Linked DNA regions of Homo sapiens. The protein of the gene in region 2 interacts with the protein of the main gene of each other region in a biochemical or structural test. Each region holds a gene or a part of one and is shown on either strand. Other genes may lie near its edges.

Region 1 (7,902 bases), on a different chromosome or scaffold from region 2:
CAACATCTAATACTAAATTACAGCATACAATTGAGTACAGAACCAGGTTACAAAATGCCCTAATGAATACAGAGAATATGTCCAAAGAGTAAGCGTAGCATGCTAAATTAAATAGAAGGAAACCAGATTTATGCTTCAGTCCTAAATTGGAATGATCTTCAGAAACACTACACAGTTTTCCTTTTACCAAAATATTCTGTATCATCTATTAAATTGAAATAATTTATTACCTTACATCCTCAGGCTCTTCTGTTGCTTTGGGAGTAGTTGCTTGTTGAGGCTCAGCATGAGGATAGGGATCTGACCCCCACAGCATACGAGGCTCAGAAAGGGAAATTGCGTGATCTCTTGCAGATCGAGCTATATGCTCAAATGACTCAGAACTGTTCGGTGACCCTTCCATCTGGTCTCTTCTCATTAATGGTTTAGGAGGAATCATTCCTGTAACAAAAGTTCAGAAAAAGGTGAAATGAGGATTTTGAAAAATGAACGAAACAAAACCATGATAGACATAGAATACAGGTTATTAATTGTTAGGTGGAATTCTCCATATTAAAAGCATTTTTTTCCTGAGTAAAAGATTGGTGGAAATTATGTAAGGGTTGTTCTGTGAATGGAATTTTATTACTGCTGTTAAATAAAAATTGCATTTAAGAACTGAGGAAGCAAAATAAGCAAAATCACAATAGCAGCCTGTTTTACTTCAAAAGAAAGAAAATATTATGCATATAAAAATCAGACACCAAGTACTGTGACTCTGGATGTCAATACAAACATCATGAAAATTATACTATGATAACTTTCAGAGAAAATTCTTTCCTAAATTCCATTAACCTACCTTAGTTGGTCAATATTCTACAAAATATGCCACTTAAATTTCCAAATACCAGTATAAATGTAAAAATCAAAACATGATTTGTGATCAGCTTATCATCCCTAAATTTTCCTCTGTAACATTTTGGTAATAGATTATCTTGATTTATTCTGATGGATTCCATAAAAGACTGCTAATTCACTTTTTTTCCCCCTAACCTAAAAGGAAATTCAAGTGTTAGGTTGGTAAATGATGGAAGAAGAACTTGAAAAGGAATATATATAACATATGGACAAAATTCAAACGCTGAAAACACTTTAAAGAAGAACAACAATGTAGCCAATAACAAATACTGTTAATAACACATAATTATTTCCATCTGAAGTTTTAAATAATACTTACAAAACAGAAATGAACTAGTATTTTGTTCTTGCCACATAAGTAATATGAGTGTCAGATATTTAATTACTCGATGCTGAAAGTTACATCATTTTGATTAAAAATCGGAGGTTTAAGTTTTTCCTAGATTACAACTCTCAAAGGAACTGAAACTAAAAGCAGGGAAAAAAAAATTTTGATCCTGTAAAACTATAAATGCAAATTCAACTGACCAGGATGAATGGGTGGAATATCCATAGCAGGTCTTCCTGACATCATTCGAGGATCCATGTAGGACTGCATCATGAGCCACCTTGGATCAAAACCCATAGAAGCCAAATGCTGAGGATGAGGCTGCATAGGCTGATAAAGAGGTCTGTGTGGTGGAGGAGGGACAGTACTACTGGACGGTTGTGAAGGAACAGTCTGTGGAAGTACACCTTGCTGTTGCTGCTGCTGCCACTGCTGCTGTTTCATCTGTTCCTGAAAAAGTAAGATCCCATATCTTGAGAGTTTAGTTCCACATGACAAATTAACATAATCAATCATATCACAAAATAATGGCCTGTTTTGAATCCTTGAAGGAAAAGTAAGAGTTCAAAAGGTATTTAACAGTTAAGAGTTGGCAAGACAAAAAACTGAAAGATGAACTATAACATTTTACCTTATACTCAAGCACTGTATGATCTATCTCCTAGAAATGGAAGATGGTGTCTATAAATGAGGCAGAAGATCAAAAGGAATGACACAGAAGGTCAAGGTAAAACCCACGTTAACTTTTATTTACAAGGAAAAATAATTTCAAGGGAACTTTGTGTGCTTTACGTATTATCAGTTTTATGTCTAATTTCCCAGACTACTGCATAATAAACCACTTCAATCACACATACATGATAAAATATTTTTATCATTACCTGCTGCCGCTGGAATCGTGGAGGTAAAGACTTCTGAAACTGTTTGAAATAGCCAGATAATACAGCCGGCCGAGGTTGAGACCCTGATTCTGGTTCTGTTTCATGCACCACTGGTGTGGCTTCCTTTTCACTGCGATTGCTGTCTTGTCTAGTGAAAACGGGTTCCTCCTCTGCTCAAAGAAAAGGTGAAAGGTAATAGTATTCATCTATGACACTTATCAAACACAGGATTTTTACAAAGACTGAGGTATAATAAAAGTTAATGAGGAAGAAAATATCCTCGACACTCTAAAACATTATTTTCTACTTTAACATTGGTAGTTATCAATGAGGTAACATTAGATTATCAAAACCTTAGATTTCCTAAAAGCTGCATTCTTAGAGATGGAGAGCAGAGATCCAAATGCTTCATCATATAAAATCTATGTTTTTTTTTTTTAAATAATGAAACATTTCCAACTCCACATATTTTTTATTTGTTTCAATAAACATCAATGTAATTGTCAGTATTTACTGGTAGTTCATTAAAATCTACATGAAAACACAAATGGCCTATAAATACTTAAAAAGAGAGCATGTTGGTTTATTTAGTTATTTATTGGGTAAAGGGACTATTATCTGTAAGGAAAACTAATGAGTTTAAGTCTGAAGACAACAGAGTGATCACTAGTTATCTTCAAACATAATTCATTCTAGAATGTCATTTGTCACAATTACAAATCCACGCTTGTTACAAATTCTTTTCTCAAATGACTAGTAATGAATTTAAAATGGAAGTTTATCTCCCAATGTAAAAGCATGCTGTTAAGAATCACAAATAACATTTTTATTGCTTGGATTACATTCAATATTAAGAATGTTGTAAAAGAGTGAGCAGGTCATGGTGGTGCATGACTGTAATAACAGTAACTCAGGAGGCTGAGGTGAGAGGATCACTTTAGCCTGGGAGTTTGAGACCAGCCTGGGCAACACAGCCAAAAAAAAAAGAATGGAAAATAATATACTGGAGGAAAAAGAGCCACATAGGCACTGACTTTAAAATCACGTGTGTCTTGAGAACATCTCAGAGAGCATTAAAACAAACAAAAAAATTGTATGTGTCTAGTATCAGAATTGAGGGGGGAAAAAAAAATCACATGGGTACATCTCACTGATAAACAAGCTAAAATTAAATTGCCATGAGAGAGAATATATAAAATGTGAATGAAAATAAAAGCACAAATAAAACTTATTAAACTATGATAATGTTTTCCTTTCTCTTGTGAACACTTTATTTCACTATTTTGGTGTTATGAGCAATCTTCATAAGTACTTATGTAATATAAGCCCACTATTCAATAGCAAAGTCTCTCTAGATTGATTAATATGAAAAAAATCTGAAATCTTAGAGTCTTAACAAATGGTCCATACAGGCCTTATTTCATTAAAAAAATTAAAGATAAAATACTCATACTCCTTTATAGTTAAATTAAGAGCCAAGTTTGAAGGTAACCCTGCATATAAATAAAAACTTTATTTTTAAAAACACATTCTTATTATTTTAAGCAGCAGTGCCTTGTAGAAAAGAGCATGAGACGTCAGGTTAGAAAACTTACAATATTTCCACATCAGAAAATACACTGAAATAAAACTGCATTTCTATTTTAATTCAAGTCGTTCATTAAAACTAAACTTTAGGCTGGGCGCGGTGGCTCACGTCTACAATCCCAGTACTTTGGGAGGCCGAGGCAGGCAGATCACGAGGTCAAGAGATTGAGGCTATGCTAGCCAACATAGTGAAACCCCGTCTCTACTAAAAATACAAAAATTAGCTGGGTGCGGTGGCACGCGCCTGTAGCCCCAGCTACTTGGGAGGCTGGGGCAGGAGAATCACTTGAACCTGGGAGGTGGAGTTTGCAGTGAGCTGAGATTCCGCCACTGCACTCCAGCCTGGAGACAGAGAGAGACTCTGTCTCAAAAACAACAACAACCACCACCACCACAACAACAACAAACAAAAAACGAAAACCCTGAACTTTAACTTTGCCAAGGCTTTATACTATATTTGAATGCCATTAATCAGTCTACAAGCCAACTCGGAGAAGAACAAAAAAGTTGATTAGATCTAGAAAAAGAATTTTATTTTAAAGTATAATTACTCCAGGAAATTACAGTTTAATAGCATATCAACTACACCATGGAAGCTTGCATGTTTAAACTGATTAAACAGCAAACCTGAAATTATGAACTAGGTGCAGTCATTTAATTATGATAATCCAACATACTCATTAAGCTCTATGCCAGTTCAGTTTTAGAGGTATTAATGCATGTGAACAAATGAGATTTTGTTTAGTTAAATGTCTTGGAGTCAGAAAAAAGCAGGGGGAGAATCAGTATATGTGACTATGAAGCCAATACAATTCTGCAGATAAAACAGAAATGAAGCTCATCTAATAACTGAGAAACACTTCAGAGACGTCTGTTCATATACAGAATTAGAAAACACGGCTCTAGCCCATATTTTGTACTGCAAATGCTATCATAAAACAATCACTTTTATATTGATTACATATATTTAAAATATACAAACCCCAAACTGTAACCAACATAAAGCTCTTTGTAAAGTTTTTAAAAGAGAATGAAGAATACTATCAAACCTTTATTACAGCTGTTTTCACTTTCTTGTTTTTCTACCATGGGCTCTAAATTAGGTTCTCTGGGTTCAATTTTCTCCTCTAATTTTTCCCTTTCCTTCTCCAGCTCACATTCCTTTTCTTGTTCTTTCATCTTTTGTAGTTCTTTTTCCTTTTCTTTCTGCCGTTCTAGTTCTTTTTCTTTTTCTTGCTTTCTTTCTTTCTCCATTTCTCTTTGTTTTTCCTGCTCCTTCTCCAGCTCTTTCTCCTTTTCCTGCTGTCTCTCTCTGTCTTTTTCCCTCTCCTTCTCTCGCTCCTGTTCTTGTTCTTTTTCAAGTTCTTTCTCACGCTCCCGTTCTTTTTCTCGCTCCCTTTCCCTAATTTCCTCTGGAGATGGTTGTTTTTCCAGGATGCCAAGCTTCTCATCCAATCGTTTCAGTTTCTCCGCACAAGCTGCCTTCCTTTGTTCTTCCATTCTTCGCTCTTCCTCTTCACGCCGTTTACGAGCACGTTCTACTGCTGCAGAAATTTCTGATTGTTGTCTTCGTCTTTGCTTCCATATTTCATCTTCATCAGCTACTTGCTGCTTGGAGGGAAAGGGGCCTGGTCTTCCAGGTACTGCCTGTCGATCTGGAGGTGGATGCTGAAACATTAAGGTATCAGATGAGTTATGACAACTCTATTTCTGACTAACACTGGGTATCAGGCATGGAGAAGGAAAAACCCCACAAAAATATCAGAAATTTCTCTGATGAACATACACATTAAAATGAAAACACATAAGATGGGAAATATATTACATCTAGATAATTCACCAAACTAAGACCAGAATAATTAATCCAGCGGTCCAATGTTTACTGAGTATGTACCTATTATTGTGCCAGACGTTGTTGCTCATTCAGTATTTGCTGAATAAAACTAGAAGCACAACAGTGAATCTCAAAATCTAAATTTAGAGACAAAGGAAATTTAGCATGGATACTTTAGAAGCAGCTGCCAGAGTTGGAATGTCTAAGGGAGAGAAATGAAGGTATTAAATATCCAAAATGATGGCATGTGAGCCCTGAGAAAATTAAGGTACAGCTACAGGTAAAAAGCACAGAGCCAAAGAAGCAAAGTGAAAAAGACAGAGTCAGTGCTGTAATGATACCCCAAAGGAGAAGAAATTCCTACAAATTAGTCTGGGTGAAGAAAAGTTCTATCTTTAGACTGAAAGATCCAGAAAAGCGTATCTAGAACCCGGAGTGGAGAATCGGAGGATCATCTGAAACATCCAAGTTTCAATGACTAAATTTTCATTAATGTGTTATAAAACAATGACAGGTTTTAAAATCACTGCTTGCAACTATGCAAAAACAATAAAAGTAATTAAAAAAATGTTTTTAACATATTGATTTTAAAAGCTACTAGGGTGAAGAAATCTTAAGAGCCATATGTAACCCAGCTGGAATGCTTATAAAAAGATTAAACAATGACACAACGAAAACACTTGACTATCTTTTTAAATGAATGCAGACTACCATTTACTAATAGTGCCATCATATGCAAATTACTTCATCTCTCTTGTGCTGAGTTTCTTCATCCACAGCTCAGAGATAAGCTGAAAAACCAAATATATTAGTGCCTAATTTACACAACTCACTTCATAAAAGTAAAATTTACATAAAATGTGCTGTGCTGCACATATTTTAAGTGTATAGTTTGATGAGTTTGGACAAATGATACACCTGTGTAACCACTGCTCCAACGCAGACACAACATTTCCATCACTCCTCTGCCTCCCCCTGTGGCCCCAAGCACCCCAACCCTAACCTTGTATAGTTCTGTTTGTCCTAGAATTTTATATACATGTATAAAATTATATTCTCTTTTGTGCTAGCTTCTTTTGCTAAGTATAATGGCATTGAGGTTATTTTATGTATAAGTAGTTTGCTCCATTTTACTGCTGGATAGTATTCCATTGTGGGCACGTTGTTTCATGTATGATAGACACGTGGGTTGCTTCCAGTTTTTAAACTATGAATAAAACAGCTATGAACATTCATGCGTAAGTCTTTGTGTAAATGTATGTTTTCCTGGCTGTTGGATAAACAGCTACAAGTGAAAATCCTGTGTCATATGGTAAATAGATATTTCATTTACAAGAAACTGCCAAACTGTTTTCCAAAGTGGTTATAAGGTTTTCCAATGTATAAGGGTGCCAGCTGCTCTATACATCCTTGCCAACACATGGTGTCATCAGTCTTTAATTCTGGCAGTGCAGTAAAATCTCAGTGGTTTTAACTTGTATTTCCCTAATAACTAAAGACACTGAATATCTTTTCATGTGCATACTGGCCATTCTTACATTTTCTTTTGAGAAACAAATGTTCAAGTCTTTTTGTTTAACTACGTATTATTGAGTTGTAAGATATTAAAAAAAAAATAAAAATACGGCCCAGGCTAGACACGGTGGCTCACATCTGGAATTCCAGCACTTTAGGAGGCCAAGGCAGGAGGACTGCTTGAGCTCAGGAATTCAAGACTAGCCTGGGCAACATGGCGAAACCCCATCTCTACAAAAAATACAAAAAAATTAGCCGGGCATAGAGGCACATGCCTGTGGTCCCAGCTACTTGGTAGGCTGAGGCAGGAGGATCGCTTGAGCCCAGGAGGTTTAGGCTGCAATGAGCTGAGATCTTGCTCCAGCCTCGGCAACAGAGCAAGACTCTGTTGCGCAAAAAAAAAAAAAAAAAAAAAAAAGCCCAGCTACAAGTCCTTCGTCAGATGTATTAGGAATATTTTTTTCTGTAACATATCTTTGCATTCTTTGGGAAATGTTCTCCAAAGTCCAACTGACCAGCTGCTTTTCCTTTCTAATTCGTGGCCAAGGTCTTATTTATCGAAGAAAACTTTGTCAGCTCCAAGTTCATGAACACTTGATCTTCTATACTTTTTTCTAGATGTTTTAGTTTTAGTTTCTGTGTACGCAGAAATGTTATAAAGAGCTTTCAGTGGTTATGAGGAGAGGGATTGCTGGAAACGATGGTGATGGTTGTGATATGTACAGCTATCACAGTAGGGTGATTACAGAAGGTCTGGAGACCCTGATCATAACAACGATTTCAGGAAAAGAAAATCTGCTAGTTAGAAAGAAGAACAAGTAAAAAAGTCAAGAAGAGCAATGTGTATGTGGTAAGAACAG
Region 2 (6,321 bases):
TTTTAGTAGAGACAGGGTTTCCCCATGTTGGCCAGACTGGTCTGGAACTCCTGACCTCAAGTGATCCGCCCACCTCGGCCTCCCAAAGTGCTAGGATTACAGGCGTGAGCCACCATACCCGGCCATAGTTGACACTTTTTTATATCCACCCAGTTCTTCTAAGTCCTCTGTGGTTGTGGACTTGCCACAAATAAGAGAAAAGAAGTTATCTGCTTCCAACTCCTGGGCCACCTGCCTTCTCTCCTATCCCTACCCCCTTTAAGGAAGACTAAGACAGGGTGTCTCCTTAATCTTCAGACACCATGATGCTGGGACCAGGGTTGACTCTAGGTGAAATTCTAAGGTAACCAAATTAGTATCATCACCCTCCTCCCTCCAGGAGCCCACTGTCACCCACCACAGCCTTTAGTATCCTTCCAGAGGCCTCTGGCTGCCTAGACTACTCAACAGTGACCCCTCACTCCTGGTCCAGTACTTTCTAAGCCATGCATACTGAGTCCAGGATCCCAAGTCACCCCTCCTCCTAGGGAATGGAATCACATGGTAACAGACCAGAATCTCTTCTGCTGTCTCCATGGTCCAGATAGAGCAATGCGATTTGGTGTGGGCATGACTGAGAAGACTAGTAGGGAAGGTCCTTTTCATAGAATGCTGGCCTGCTCCCGAAGACACTGCTCATGGAAGAATGGATAGAGTCATTAGTGCTGCATTACTCAAGGGACACCCCACGCCAGTGCTTAGACACCAGCAAAACTGGGGAACTGAAAAATAAAAGAAAAAATTAGAAACAGAATTTGATAGTTAATCTATATACAATATATGTTTTAAGTATAATCATGTTGAACTTTAAATGTTTCATGGCTTAATATTTTCATTCTGATTACATATGAAAAATGGGACACCACAATCTTTTCAGAGTTTAGAACCTTTAAAGTCTTCATCTAGTCTTGGTTAGGTGGAAGGTCTCTTCCTGGATGAAACCTTTCCTGATCCCTTGCCCAGGTAGTACCATTACTCCTATTTGGAGCCTTCTAAATGTACCCTGATTAACTTCTATCACTCAGCTTACCTAGTCTTTCCTTGCTTCTGCATTGCAAGTCCCTCCAGGGAAGGTCCTGGGTTTTATTCATCTTTGTATCCTTAGCACCTGTGCCTGGACTATAGTAGGAACTCAATAAATGGCTGATGGGATTAATGAAGAGATCTTTTTCTTTCCACAAATAGACACACACAGTTTTTCTTTTCTTTCTTTATTTATTTATTTATTTGAGACGGAGTCTCACTGTGTCGCCAGGCTGGAGTGCAGTGGCATGATCTCGGCTCACTGCAACCTCAGCCTCCCGGGTTCAAGCAATTCTCCTGCCTCAGCCTCCCGAGTAGCTGGGACTACAGATGTGTGCCACCATGCCCAGCTGATTTTTATATTTTTAGTAGAGACGGGGTTTCACCATGTTGGCCAGGATGGTCTCCATCTCTTGACCTTGTGATCCGCCCGCCTCAGCCTCCCAAAGTGTTGGGATTACAGGCGTGAACCACTGCATTCAGCCTTAGTTTTTCTAGTAATAGAATTAGGTCTTACAAAAAAAGGCCCAGAGATCCTTTTTGGGCAGCTTCCTGTCCCCAAGACTATTTCCTTGACCTCTCCAGCATAGCAGTAGACCATAAAAATGGACACAGGGTGCTGAGAAGCAGCTGAACCAGACGAAATGATGATTCTTATTTTGGGAGGTTTCAATCTCTTTGATAATCTAGCAAAAAACAGATCCTTTCCCCAGGAAAATGCACATTCAGACACACAATTTTCTAGTTTGGTTCCTGGACCACTTGATTGCCTCCCTTCCCTGGGAGGCTTCCCAATCCTCTCCACCCCCCAGCTTCCTTCCCACTCCCAGGTAAAGAACCCCTACCCTAGAGGCACTGGGTTCTAATCAGTATTCAGAGTGAGGCCATGGTCAGCTGCCCTATCCTCCCAGTGAGCCCATTCTTGTTCATTCTATAGCACCACTACTGCCCACTCACAGCCAAACACCTGGGACCTCCATGGAAATGGCATACGCTCTGAGAATAGCGAAGTTTCACCAAGGGGAGGAGGAGAAGACAACAGGACAGTTAAGCAAACAAAAAACAAACCACCTGAGTCACCAGAAGGGGAACAAGCCTAACTATTCAGCTCCTCTTCTGGGTGGCTGTATCTCCTCATTACCTAGTAAACTGCCACCAAATGTAAGAAGAAATAAATAAGAGTCCAAGCATTTATTTTATTACCAAAAACAATTTGTTAATAAACACGCTCAATGCCTCCAATCCTGTCCCTGAGGATAATCATGAAAGTCCTTGGGGTTGTAGAGGAAACCTTAAGAGGAAAATGGCTACTTGGTTATCAATGCCTTGGCTGGTGACAAAGAAAGGACCCTTGCAGGGACCAGTCACATGCCATCCTTGGGCCTAAGGAGCCCGAAAGATGGGAATGGATGTGAGCTAAGGATTTAATCACTGTCAAGCAGATCTTGAGGGTTATGGTTAAGCCTGATAACAGCCTCTTTAACAAGAACACACACATCCAGGATCCCCTCAAAGAATCCAGAGTCCTCAGGCTCCCCACAAAATGTAGTCTGGCAGAAAAGGGAAGTCTTTAGAGTCTGCAGAATGATGCAAACCCAGGCCAGAGTGGACCACACTGCTCTCGGCACCACTCCTAAAGGCATCCATTGGCAACGGCTGCCCACTAGGGGCACTGCCACTTGCCTGGCTCAAACTTCAGGACCTGGGGAAGAAATGGTCTGGCTCTGCGGCCTTCAAACCATCTGGATCTCTGGCTCCTCAGCTATTCCTTGAAGCTTTTCCATGATGCCCCCTGAAGGTGGCTCAGGGGCTGGGGGAGGCTCCCCTGGGGCTTCAGACAGCACATAGTAGACGATCTCTTGCTGGCCTTGGGCATTGGTCTGATTCACCACGTGGATGACAGAACTGGGGTTGTCCTGAGAGGCTGAGAGGGCTGTCCCTTCGCTACCCTTGCCCTCCTCTTCCTCTTCCTTACGTCCTGGCTCCCCTGGCACTGTTTCTAGAATAATGCCCTGCAGGCTGCTCTCGTTCAGCGACGTTCCCAGGCCCGATCCCTCTTGTGGTTGCCGCAGCAGTTGCTGTGTCAGCTCTACACTCTCGTAGCGAACCAGCTGCAGCCGCATATAGCCATCTTCATGTTCCTTGTACCTGGTGAGGTAGGAGCATAAAGGGCAGCAAACCCAGGCAGGGGGATACAGAAATGGCCGAGGCTGGCAAAGTAAGGAACAAACATGAGGGATGGAAGAAGTCCTGGAATCCAAGTGACAGGAGTTGAAGACAAAAAAGGTCTTTATTGGAATATGTAGAAGAAAAGGCAAGAGGGAAAGATCATTACTCAAAATGGAAAGTTTTATATAGAAACCCAACCAGAAAAACAGAGACTGACTGACTGTGTTGGAGGGTGAAAGTGTCAAAGGATTTATGAGAAGGCCTTGGAGCTAAGGATCAGAACCCTTAGACTCTAGCTCTAGTTCCAGCTGCAGGACTTTTTGGCACCATTTATTGGGTTTGGCACCATGCCTTACAAGATTCAAAAAACAGAAAAATAAGCTTTGCTCCACCATTATTCTTAGGATTCTTTGAATCTAAATGGAAATGGCAGACATAAAACCACCATCAAATTAAGGTTTTATTTATTTATTTATTTATTTTTGAGATGGAGTCTCGCTCTGTCACCCAGGTTGGAGTGCAGTGGCATGATCTCAGCTCACTACAACCTCCGCCTTCTGGGTTCAAGTGATTCTCCCACCTCAGCCTCCCAAGTAGCTGGGACTACAGGCATGTGCCACCATGCTCAGCTACTTTTTGTATTTTTAGTAGAGACGGGGTTTCACCATGTTGGCCAGGCTGGTCTCGAACTCCTGACCTCATGATCCGCCCACCTTGGCCTCCCAAAGTGCTGGGATTACAGGCGTGAGCCACCGCGCCCGACCCAAATTAAGGTTTTTAAAACTGGTTGAAAAGGTATAAAAACAAGTGTGTTAATCTGGGAAGGAGGGTTGAGAGACATACCGAAAACGGGGATGCCCTGAGGGCCACTTGAACTGGTGCTTCTTGCGAAGGTGCACGGTGAGGTTGTTGCCCCGTGTGAAGCATTTGTCACACACATGACATTTGTACCTTGGCTCAGAGTCTCCCTGATGGGGAAGGAAGGGAGAAATGAGACCAGCTCTTCACCCCAGGGTCCCCCATACTTCCACTAGTCCTTCCCAACACCAGCCCCACTCACTTCATGTACTTTGCGGTAATGGGACTTGATAGAGCAGAGGGATCGGGCACTGAAGGTGCAGTTCTCAAAATCACACCTGTAGGCTGGCTCCTCGCTGTGGGTATCCAGGTGCTTCTGGAGGTCAATAAGATTCTTGCAGCTGCCATGAGAAATCAGGAGGGATTGGAGGACATGGGGAACACTGGAACATGAGCTGTTTTCTGGTCCCTGGTCCCCCTTACCTGTAGTCACAACAGTCACATTTAAAGGGCCGGTCCTCACTGTGACGAAAGCGCATGTGGTTGCGGAGGGAGGAAGGCAGCGGGCAGGTCATGTCACACAGAGGGCACTTATAGTGATTCACTGAGAGAAGCAGAGAGGAGGCTGTGATGTGAGAACTTGTGGAACCTTGGAGGGCAGGAGGGAGGCTGTGGGCCGCAGGCCACTCACCATGGTTGCGCATGTGGTCCCGCAATAGCCGCTCTGTGGCAAATCTCTTGGAACAGTGAGAACACTGGAAGTGCTGCTCTGGGGTGGGGCAGGCAGAAGAAAGGAGGGCTGTAGGTGATAGTGGAGAGGCACAGAAAGGAGAGGGGAACCATCCCAGGCAGAAGGGAACCACCCAAGGAGAAAAGGAGAGCTTAGGGAGCTATGAATGGACACAGTATCATGGAAAGAGCATGGGACTTAGAGAACCTGAGTTAGAATTCCAGCTTCACCACTTACTAGCTGTGTGATCTCAGGTAAGTGATTTAACCTCTCTGAGCCTCAGTTTCCTCATCTGCAAAAAGGGGGATAAGAAGCCTACCTCATGGGGCTGTTGTGAGGATTCCCTAAGTAACTGATACGAGGTACAGTAAGTACTGAATAACAATGCCTACGAATCTGAATCAGCAAAGAGACTATGGGAGGTGCCTGAGCCCAAAAAGAAGAGGCAGCCAAAAGGCAGGTCTCTTCAGTGGCCACCCCCACTAGAAACATGCCCCTAACCCATTCCAAGCAGGACAGCCTGCATCCACCCCACTTCCTCTGACTACTTACGATCCAATGAGGTCTGGCGACGGATGTGATCTAAGAACTTGGTATTGTTGGCAAACATGCCCCCACAGGTGGGGCAGGCTACCACTTTCTCCTGGGTATGGCTGCGGAGGTGCTCTCGAAGTTTACTGCGGTCCTTGAAGGTGCAGGTACAGCCTGGGAAGGAAGCCCTATCAGTCTCCTGCCACAAAACCCCAGTTTTGCCTAGGATCTGGTACCCCTGAGTCTCTCCAGCCGGCAGTCAACCTTGCCCCTGTAGGACCCCTATCCCTTTCTGTCCCAGCTCTTCAGGAACCCCAGCGTTTCCTCCAGAAGCCACAAGTTAAGAAGCAGCCCTACCTTTCCAGCCACACAGCACCACCGGGTTGTCCTTGCCGACTGCTTCGTATTCACAGCACAGACTGTGTGCTTCCACATGCCGATAAAACCACTCAGGATTGTCGAAGGAATTCTGTGCCAGGGGCAACTTGGGGTGAGGACTGAGGGTGGGTAGAGGGACTCACCCCTATGTGCCCGAAGAATTCTTGGCTCTCTCCCAAATTAACTTGATGGGGATGGGAAATTTTGAGGAAAGGCACTGCACAGAAATGGAGGAGTGGCCGGGTGCGGTTGCTAAACCCTGTAATCCCAGCACTTTGAGAGGCTGAGGCAGGAGAATCACTTGAGGCCAAGAGTTCGAGACCGGCCTGGGCAACACACCCAGACCTTGTCTCTACAAAAAATTTAGAAGTTAGCAGGGCATGGTGGTACATGCCTGTAGTCCTAGCTACTTGGGAGGCTGAGGTGGGAGGATTGCTTGAGCCCAGGAGTTCAAGGTTACAGTGAGCTATGATTGTACCACTGCACTCTAGCCTGGGCTTCAGATCAAGAGCCTGTGTGTAAAAAATAAACAAATTTTAAAAGAGCAAAAGAAATGGAAGAGAGATACTAGCAGGAATCTTGGAAATATAAGGCATCCCTGAAAGGGACAAGGCATCAGAGTTAAGACCCCCAGCTTCCTTCCACCCCAATTA
Region 3 (8,441 bases), on a different chromosome or scaffold from region 2:
TTGACTAGAATGTTTGATCTGTAAATATGACATAAAGGAGTAACAAACAAAATGGGCAATGTAAACGATCTTGCATTTTGCAAAGAACTTTTGGAAGTATTAAACATGTAACTATTAGATCTTTAAAACAGAGAGTATGTAAAAACAAGGGAAAACACTAGAACACAAATCGAATTACCTTTTATATGAAAAGCTATACTTAAAAGACACAAAGGAATACTTACATCAATTTTGGATAATGACTATTTTTAATACTCTGTGCTTTTTCAAAAACGTTTGTTTGTAATGTTAAATATGTTTAGAGGTTTAATCATCCCCAAATGTGCTTATTTGATGCTAGCACTTCTGTGCATCAGTTTCTTCATATACAATAAAGAAATTACATTAGAACCTACATCATGTGATGTTCAATTAAATGGTTGTACATGTCACTAATTTGCCTAGCACATAGTAAATGCTCATTATGGGTAAGCTTTTCATTGTTGTTTTAAAACTACACTGAATTTACTGACAGATTCAAGTCTCTAAACAATAAAAATACTAATTTGCAAGCGACACAAAAAAAAAATCTAAATTCAACTTGTTTTTCCACAGAAAGCTAACACCATGGCAAAGTAGCAGAAGAGACAATTCCTAAACCTATACAAACTAATAATCAGAAGAGTTTGTTAGTAGGTTCTTGGAGTCTTCAGTGTTCCTGTTCTAGCCTGTGATCTTAAAAATTTGAATAAACTATGCAATGGCCTGTCTGTTCTCCATCTGAACCTTTGGAGTCTAAGAATCTCTCTTCCTACCCAGGTCATGTGACCAAACACTTAGGAATTATTTCTAAATTATAAAATCTTGCATGAAGATATATTCAAGGAGTACTGTATAAAAAAGCAAAAGGACTGCCACTGGAGATGAAATGTTTATATTTTTCCTTTTCAAGAGAAAGGTATCTATGGAAAGTGAAAAGCTTCCTTAACCCCAATAAAATAATTTGATTTTAAGGTAACAGGACATCAGAGCAAAGGAAAGACTATCCCTTACAACTGAGAATTTGTTTGGCAGGAGGACGACTATAGATGGGTGTTTCTGAGCTTTGGCACTGTTGACATCTTGGGCCAGATGCTTCTGTATTGTGGGGGCTGCCCTGAGCCTGGTAGGATGCCCACCCTGACCTCTCCTCCGCGATGACAGCGCATGCCCCTGTCCTATATTGTGACATGGAAATTCAAATGAATCCTGGAAGGTTAGATGACCCTCCTGTGAGAACCACTGTTCTCAAGAGATTGCAAATCCATGGCTCCAGCCCATGTTTCTACTGACCCTTGCCAGAATGCTAGGTATTGATCACACCCCCTATGCCAGACACCATCCCTGGCCCTACACACGTGATTAGTAACAAGACAGTCTTTGCCTTTGGGGAGCTCAGCCTAGTGGGAGACAAACCCACAACTCACCCCTGAAGCTGTGGGGTTGGAAATACAAGTTTTCATGCAAGGCTTCCTCAGAGGTGACATTTCACCTGATGCCTGAATGATGGAAATCACACAAGCTTGAGGAAGGGGAGAACTTTCCCATTGTAAACTTCCAAGTGTGTAAGAAGTACCAAGGTGAACAAAGGCTTGGAATGCCTTAGGCGGGAGGAACAAGGTAGGGGATGGGGTTGGGAGGACAGGGTGAGGCCGGGATGGGGTTGGGAGGACAGGGTGAGGCCTGAATCCCGTGTGGTCTGGGAAATGACCACACGGGAAATGACCCCCCTTCTCAGGCCTCTAGTGGGACACATGTCAGAGGCTGATGGGGCACTGTCAGCAACTATACCTGTTATACAGGGACAGGGTTATTACCACCACCAAACAGGACAGCAATATAAGAGGAAACGTTCTCGAATTCCAGGCAGGAAGACTTTCTGTCCCATTTTCCTATTGCCACAAGGAGCCAAGAGACAAGTGTATGGCTTCCTTCCTTCATTCTCTGTGTCCCCAGTGGCCAGGGATGCCCACTGTGGAGGCACCCGGGGGCGCACAGTGTCTTCAGACGCCTGCCTGCAGCCAGTGACATATGAAGATCATCTACATCTTTCTTTACCGCAACATTAGCAAATCGATTTTTTTAATTGGCTTGATTTTTAAAACCACTTAAACATACAAACTAGCATCAAATTTATACTTACAAAACAAAAAAACACAACTATGTCAACTTAGTAACGAATGGGAGAAGCACCAAGGAAAAGTGACGGCAGGACCCAATCCTAGAGCGCGTTTCTGGACTTTATTCTGTGACTAAGGTATTTTCCTCTTTCTCAGCTAAAACGTCCGCGCGCGCCCGCGGGGCTCACCTTCCAAACAAGCAGGTGCTGAGGCTCAGGGGAAAGTGGGGACCGTCGACCCCGCTCCTTTTGATAGTAACCAGGCGTCTCGTGGGCCACATTTTCTAAACAGTAAGTTGAGTATAATCCGTAGGGGAAGGCCAGGTATAATCCGTAGGGGAAGGCCAGAAGCAAATTTACAACTCTTCCACTGCAAAAGAGGTGCGAGTTACTCTGATAGCAAAGGAGCTAAGAAGGGCCCCGTGCCCAATTCACCTATCCCCGGCCACAGAAGCGCACACCGCAGCTAGCTAGCGGGGACCCCAGGACGATCCGACCGCAGCCCCCGGCGCCCCAAAGTCCGGCAGCTGGGGTGTTGTCGCCAGCGCCTGCGCCTCCTGGGAGCTTCCACCGAGACGCCCTCGCCAGAGCCCAGGAGGAGTCGGGCCCAGGCCGCGCGTCTGTCCCCTGCCCGTCCCCGCAGAGCTCGGGGGGTCCCCGCGGCTCAGCCCTCGACCCCGGACAGCTCCCAGGAGTCCCGGCCGCAGCTCACCTGGGACGATCCGGCCCGCAAGGCCACTTGTCGAACCACCGCTCGTCAAGTCGCACCCAAAGTCCGCCGCAGGAGGAGCCGGCGCCGCGCTCACCTCCGCCCGGTAAGCTGCGCCCGCCACGCTCCGCACACACCGGGCCGCAGCCCGCGGGGTCGCGTTCGCTGCACCCCGGCCTGCAGTCCCCGCTGCTCCCGCCGCCGCCTCTGACGGGGACCCGGTGGCCCTACAGGCTACGTCCCCGGGCGCCCGGCTCTAGCGGCTCCCACCGAGTCGAGTCCTCCCGCCCGCCCGCCCGCCCGCAGCGTCAGCCCTCCACTTCCTTCTTCCAGCCCGGCGCGCCCGCCCAATTCAAACGAAAACGAAGATTCAAATTCTGGCGCTAAGCGCTGCGATTGAACGGGAAAGCGCGGCATGGGACCAATAGGAAGGGAGCGCAGGGCGTGGGCGGGGAGGGGGCGGGGAAACCGGGCTCGCGGGGCGGGGCTGGCGTGTCCGCGGGCGAGCCACTCACGCATCCGGAGGAAAATACCTGGGTGCATCCCCGGCGAGGGCGGCTGGCGGAGGGCAGAGGTGGAACACGCTCCCACCGAGATAACCCGTCCTGCTATCCTTTTCTTAAAGGACCAAACATCTGGGACACTATAACATTACTCATTGCCAGAAGATTTAAAACTGCTAAAAATTAAAAACAGGCGGGACGCGGTGGCTCACGCCGGTAATCCCCGCACTTTGGGAAGCTGAAGCAGGAAGATCCCTTGAGCCCGGGAGTTCAGAACCAGCCTGGGCCACCTGGAGAGAACCCATCTCTACAAAAAATTCGCCAGGCGTGGTGGCGCCCCTGTAGTTCTAGCTACTGGGACAGCTGAGGTGGGAGGATCGCTTGAGCCGGGGCGGTCGAGGCTGCAGTGAGCTGAGATCGCGCCACTGCACTCCAGCCTGGGCGACAGAGCAAAGCCCTGTCTCAAAAAAAAAAAAAAAAAAAAAAAAAAAATCGAAACCTTCCTCTTCAGTGCATACATCTTACCAAACACAAAAACAACCAATTATATAAAGTAGTTTGGTGTGTCTTTTCCTGCTATACGTGTATTCTCTTTTTCAAAAGCACAGAAAAAAAGGTCATAACATACACAACACGATTCTATACTTTGTGCTCTCTGCTTTTAAATATCCTGAGGCTATCTCCACTGAACACATTCTCGCTTTTACTCTCTGATGGCTGCAGAGCACTGGGCTTCGGGAAACCATAATTTACTTAATCATTACTATTGCCACATACTTAGGTTTACAATGTTTTGTTATTAGAAAACATTCTTCAATTGAAATGGCTTGTGCATGCCAAGATGGGTGAATCCTAAAATAATTCTACACAGGATTCTATCGGGGTCTGCTTCAGTTGCGCTGGTGGCCATGTGGGCTCAGTAGGCCACCTGGGGTGAAGTGAATGGAGCCTAAACACGCTTTTGGTGACAACGGCCTCTCTGCCCCATCTCACCTCCTCCAGCTCCCCAGCAACCCTTGGAGCTTGGCTCCCTTGATCAGGGAGGCCTCGATGCAGGGGACCCCTGAGGACTTCCTATTCCTTTCAGAGAGTCCATAAGGTCAAAACCATTTATCTAATGACCCTCTGTGTTACTTGCCCTTCTCATTCTCATGCTCCCAAGAGTGTGGGGTGTGGTTCTGCAAATGCAGAAGCAGTGAGGAGACTCCCACTGTCTCCGTTTCAACCAGGTATTACAGAGATTTGCAAAAATGTGAACTAAAGCGCTGTTTTCATTTTGTTGTTTTTTTTCCATAAAAATAAGTTATTGGTGTTAGCATGAAATAGGTGCATCACTATCTTAAAATGAATCAATAAATGAATATTTTTAAATTCCTTAGCCTTAACTTAAAATATATAAATATAGCTAGATATAACCCATCCACATTAACAAAAATTCCTGGTGGTTCTCAATAATTCTTAAGAGTGTAAAGGGACCACAAGATTGAAAAGACTGAGCCCTCTGCTCTAGAGCAACTACAAAGATATCAGCTGCTGATGGAAATAGAGAAACTGGGAAAGCAACATAAAAGCACAGGACAGCAACTCTAAATTGTATGGGCCAAGTCTGACGTAGAAAAATTCAGTGCGGGGATACTATTATATAAACGTTTTAGGGGGCATGAGTTTCCATGTTTTCCCCCATTAAACGATCAAACAAAGCCCACCACTGCATAACCCCATAAAACACAACTTTTCTCATCCTAATTACTGCTTGTTTCCAGAGACAGTTCTTCCACCCTCATGGATGCAGCCTAATTAGAACTAGAAGGTGCTAGGCCAGGCGCAGGGGCTCATGCTTGTAATCCCAGCACTTTGGGAGGCCAAGGTGGGTGGATCATGAGGTCAGGAATTCAAGACCAGACTGACCAATATGGTGAAACCCCATCTCTACTAAAAATACAAAAATTAGTCGGGTGTAGTGGCACACGCCTGTAGTCCCAGCTACTCGGAAGGCTGAGGCAGGAGAATCACTTGAACCCGGGAGGCAGTGGTTGCAGTAAGCCAAGGTCACGCCACTGCGCTTCAGCCTGGGCAACAGAGCGAGACTCCATCAAAAAAAAAAAATAGAAAAGAGAGAGAGACAGAAAGAAAGAACGAAGGAAAGAAAGAAAGAAAAAGAAAGAAAGAAAGAGAGAGAGAAGAAAAAGAGAGGAGAAAAAGAAAGAAAGAGAGAAGAAAAAGGAAGAAAGAAAGAAAAACATTTTGAGTTACTTCTTTGAAACATTTTGAGTTACTTCTTTTCTGTTGTTGCTGTTGTTGTTTTTCTTTTTTGAGATGAAGTCTCACTCTGTCCCCCGGGCTGGAGTGCAGTGGTGCAATCTCTGCTTACTGCAACCTCCGCCTCCCAGGTTCAAGCGATTCTCCTGCCTCAGCCTCCCAAGTAGCTGGGATTACAGGTGTCTGCTGCTAAGCCCAGCTATTTTTTTTTTTTGTATTTTTAGTGGAGATGGGGTTTCACTTTTTTTTTTTTGAGACTGAGTCTCACTCTGTCACCCAGGCTGGAGTGCAGTGGCACAGTCTTGGCTCACTGCAACCTCTGGCTCCTGAGTTCAAGCAATTCTCCTGCCTCGGCCCCCTGAGTAGCTAGGACTACAGGTGTGAGCCACCACGCACAGTTTATATATATATATATATTATGTGTGTGTGTATATATATGTATGTGTGTGTGTGTGTGTGTGTATATATATAGTATACTGTCGCTATATATATGTATATATGTATATATATGTGTGTATATATATAGTATACTGTCTCTATATATAGTATATAGTATGTGTGTATATATATAGTATACTGTATATATAGTAATTATATATAGTATATATACTATATATAACAATTATATATAGAGTATATATACTATATATAATTAGTATATATATTACTATATATATATATATATATATAGTAATTTTAGTAGAATCAGGTTTTCACATGTTGGCCAGCTGGTCTCGAACGCCTGACCTCAAGCAATCCGTCCGCCTCGGCCTCCCAAAGTGCTGGGTTTACAGGCGTGAACCACCGTGCCCAGACTTCTTCCTGGCTTTTAATCTGGTCTCTTGTGGGGAGGTTGCCCACACTTTTCTTCCCAACTTTCTTCTCTGTTACGTAAGTCAGGGACAATGTATAGTTCCTTCCAGACTTCCGTATTCTACTTTCATTGATCTTGGACCTACAAGTCGGTTTTGTAGCTCCATTTTTGGAGTTTTATTTTTTTCATGATCTTCTTTCCATTTTCATCTCCTTTAAATAGTTTCTACTAATATAGGAAAACTACGGATGTATTGTTCTTTATTGGTTATGTTTCTTGTTCTTGGACACAAAGGCATTCCCTAGGGAAATCAGAAGACATCTACAAAATTCCAATAATGATTGAAACAAATCTCAAAATTCAACTAAAAGTAAACTCAAAAAGAAATGCATTTAAAAATATTAGGCTGATTAATTTTTTAAGATGTCAGTAATCTAAGATATCCAATATGATGCTTTGCCAATCTATGAACAAGAAAAGTCTGATTATAACAGCTTACATTATAGCAAAATGCCCCATTACACAGGCATCAAATGAATTTCTTATCACTTAGTCATCTCTGCTAAAACAAAACAAAACTCTTCATGACTGGACTTTCGTCATACTTCTCTCCACACACTAGTAACCTCTCTAACAACTCCAACAATTATGTTGACTGCAGAATACACATTCCCTGTATGTACTGCTCTGATTGTTTTCCTATTTGTACCCAATGCTCCTGATGATAGTGTCTAGAGCAACATAAGACTAAGCTGCCCATCTTTTCACTGAATAATTTTTCACACATTTGAAGATGAACACAACTCATTCACTTCCTGAAATATTCTCGTTAAAATTTTTATTAGCAGTTTTTGCTGTTATTGTTGTTGTTTGTTGTTGTTGAGATGGAGTCTCGCTCTGTTGCCTAGGCTGGAGTGCAATGGGCATGATCTCGGCTCACTGCAACCTCCACCTCCTGGGTTCAAGCAATTCTCCTGCCTCACCCTCCCGAGTCACTGGGACTATAGGCATATGCCACCACGCCCAGCTAATTTTTGTATTTTGGGTAGAGATGGGGTTTCATCCTATTGATCAGGCTGGTCTCAAAATCCTGACCTTAGGTGATCGGCCTGCCTCAGCCTCCCAAAGTGCTGGGATTACAGACATGAGCCACCGCACCCGGCCTTATTAGCAATTTTGACTAGTTCTTCCTTTTTTTTTTTTTTTTTTTTTGAGACGGAGTCTCGCTCTGTCGCCCAGGCTGGAGTGCAGTGGCGGGATCTCGGCTCACTGCAAGCTCCGCCTCCCGGGTTCCCGCCATTCTCCTGCCTCAGCCTCCCAAGTAGCTGGGACTACAGGCGCCCGCCACTACGCCCGGCTAATTTTTTGTATTTTTAGTAGAGACGGGGTTTCACCGTTTTAGCCGGGATGGTCTCGATCTCCTGACCTCGTGATCCGCCCGCCTCGGCCTCCCAAAGTGCTGGGATTACAGGCGTGAGCCACCGCGCCCGGCCTAGTTCTTCCTTTTCCCACACTTAGTCTGTTCCTCTATCATGCCTGAAGGATTCTTCACTATTACCTGCAGTTATTGCCTGTGTTGAATGCAGACATCTTTGAGAGAAGGTCTAAGAATAAATTCAGGTGGCATATACATTTTACAATCATGGAGATCATGTAATCATTATGGGATGGCTGCCGCCACCTTATTTGCTGTGGCCCAGTGTCCTTTAGTTTTCATGTTCCTTCTGTTTTTTAAAGGTTCAATATTTATTGCAGTGAATTGCATATTTCTTCTTCCTCTTAACACATGGGCTTTTTTCAGTGTTCAGGTGCAACATGTTGCTTTCATTTCAGTGTTAAATTGCTCTCTGGTGTCCATGAAGTATTGCAGTGTCTTTATTTTATTGGTCTTCAGGACTCTTCCAAATATTTTTAAAGGTTTTCCTCTCTCAAAACCACTTGTCTTATCCTCAGCATCATCTTGTATTTGTGTGACCTTCTTGAAGCCAGCCAGATGTTCTCAAGGTTGAGCCCTTTCCT

What was found.
Region 1: the proteins of HINFP (region 2) and PRRC2C form a complex in vitro, tested with the Homo sapiens proteins (one study listed by BioGRID).
Region 3: the proteins of HINFP (region 2) and MKI67 form a complex in vitro, tested with the Homo sapiens proteins (one study listed by BioGRID).

What each region holds. Positions count from the first base shown.
Region 1 is NC_000001.11:171,529,802-171,537,703, reverse strand, and holds part of PRRC2C (protein PRRC2C), read right to left. Parts: intron 5,362-7,902; coding exon 4,743-5,361; intron 2,277-4,742; coding exon 2,107-2,276; intron 1,676-2,106; coding exon 1,426-1,675; intron 442-1,425; coding exon 231-441; intron 1-230. UniProt on the Homo sapiens protein: Required for efficient formation of stress granules.
Region 2 is NC_000011.10:119,130,973-119,137,293, reverse strand, and holds the end of HINFP (histone H4 transcription factor), read right to left. Parts: intron 5,760-6,321; coding exon 5,648-5,759; intron 5,465-5,647; coding exon 5,312-5,464; intron 5,052-5,311; exon of another isoform or gene 4,997-5,051; intron 4,799-4,996; coding exon 4,721-4,798; intron 4,634-4,720; coding exon 4,513-4,633; intron 4,431-4,512; coding exon 4,292-4,430; intron 4,200-4,291; coding exon 4,075-4,199; intron 3,351-4,074; coding exon of another isoform or gene 3,211-3,350; coding exon 2,796-3,210; 3' UTR 1,235-2,795; downstream 1-1,234. UniProt on the Homo sapiens protein: Transcriptional repressor that binds to the consensus sequence 5'-CGGACGTT-3' and to the RB1 promoter. Transcriptional activator that promotes histone H4 gene transcription at the G1/S phase transition in conjunction with NPAT.
Region 3 is NC_000010.11:128,123,250-128,131,690, forward strand, and holds the start of MKI67 (proliferation marker protein Ki-67), read right to left. Parts: upstream 3,175-8,441; 5' UTR 2,850-3,174; intron 2,508-2,849; 5' UTR 2,419-2,507; coding exon 2,327-2,418; intron 1-2,326. UniProt on the Homo sapiens protein: Protein that associates with the surface of mitotic chromosomes and acts both as a chromosome repellent during early mitosis and chromosome attractant during late mitosis.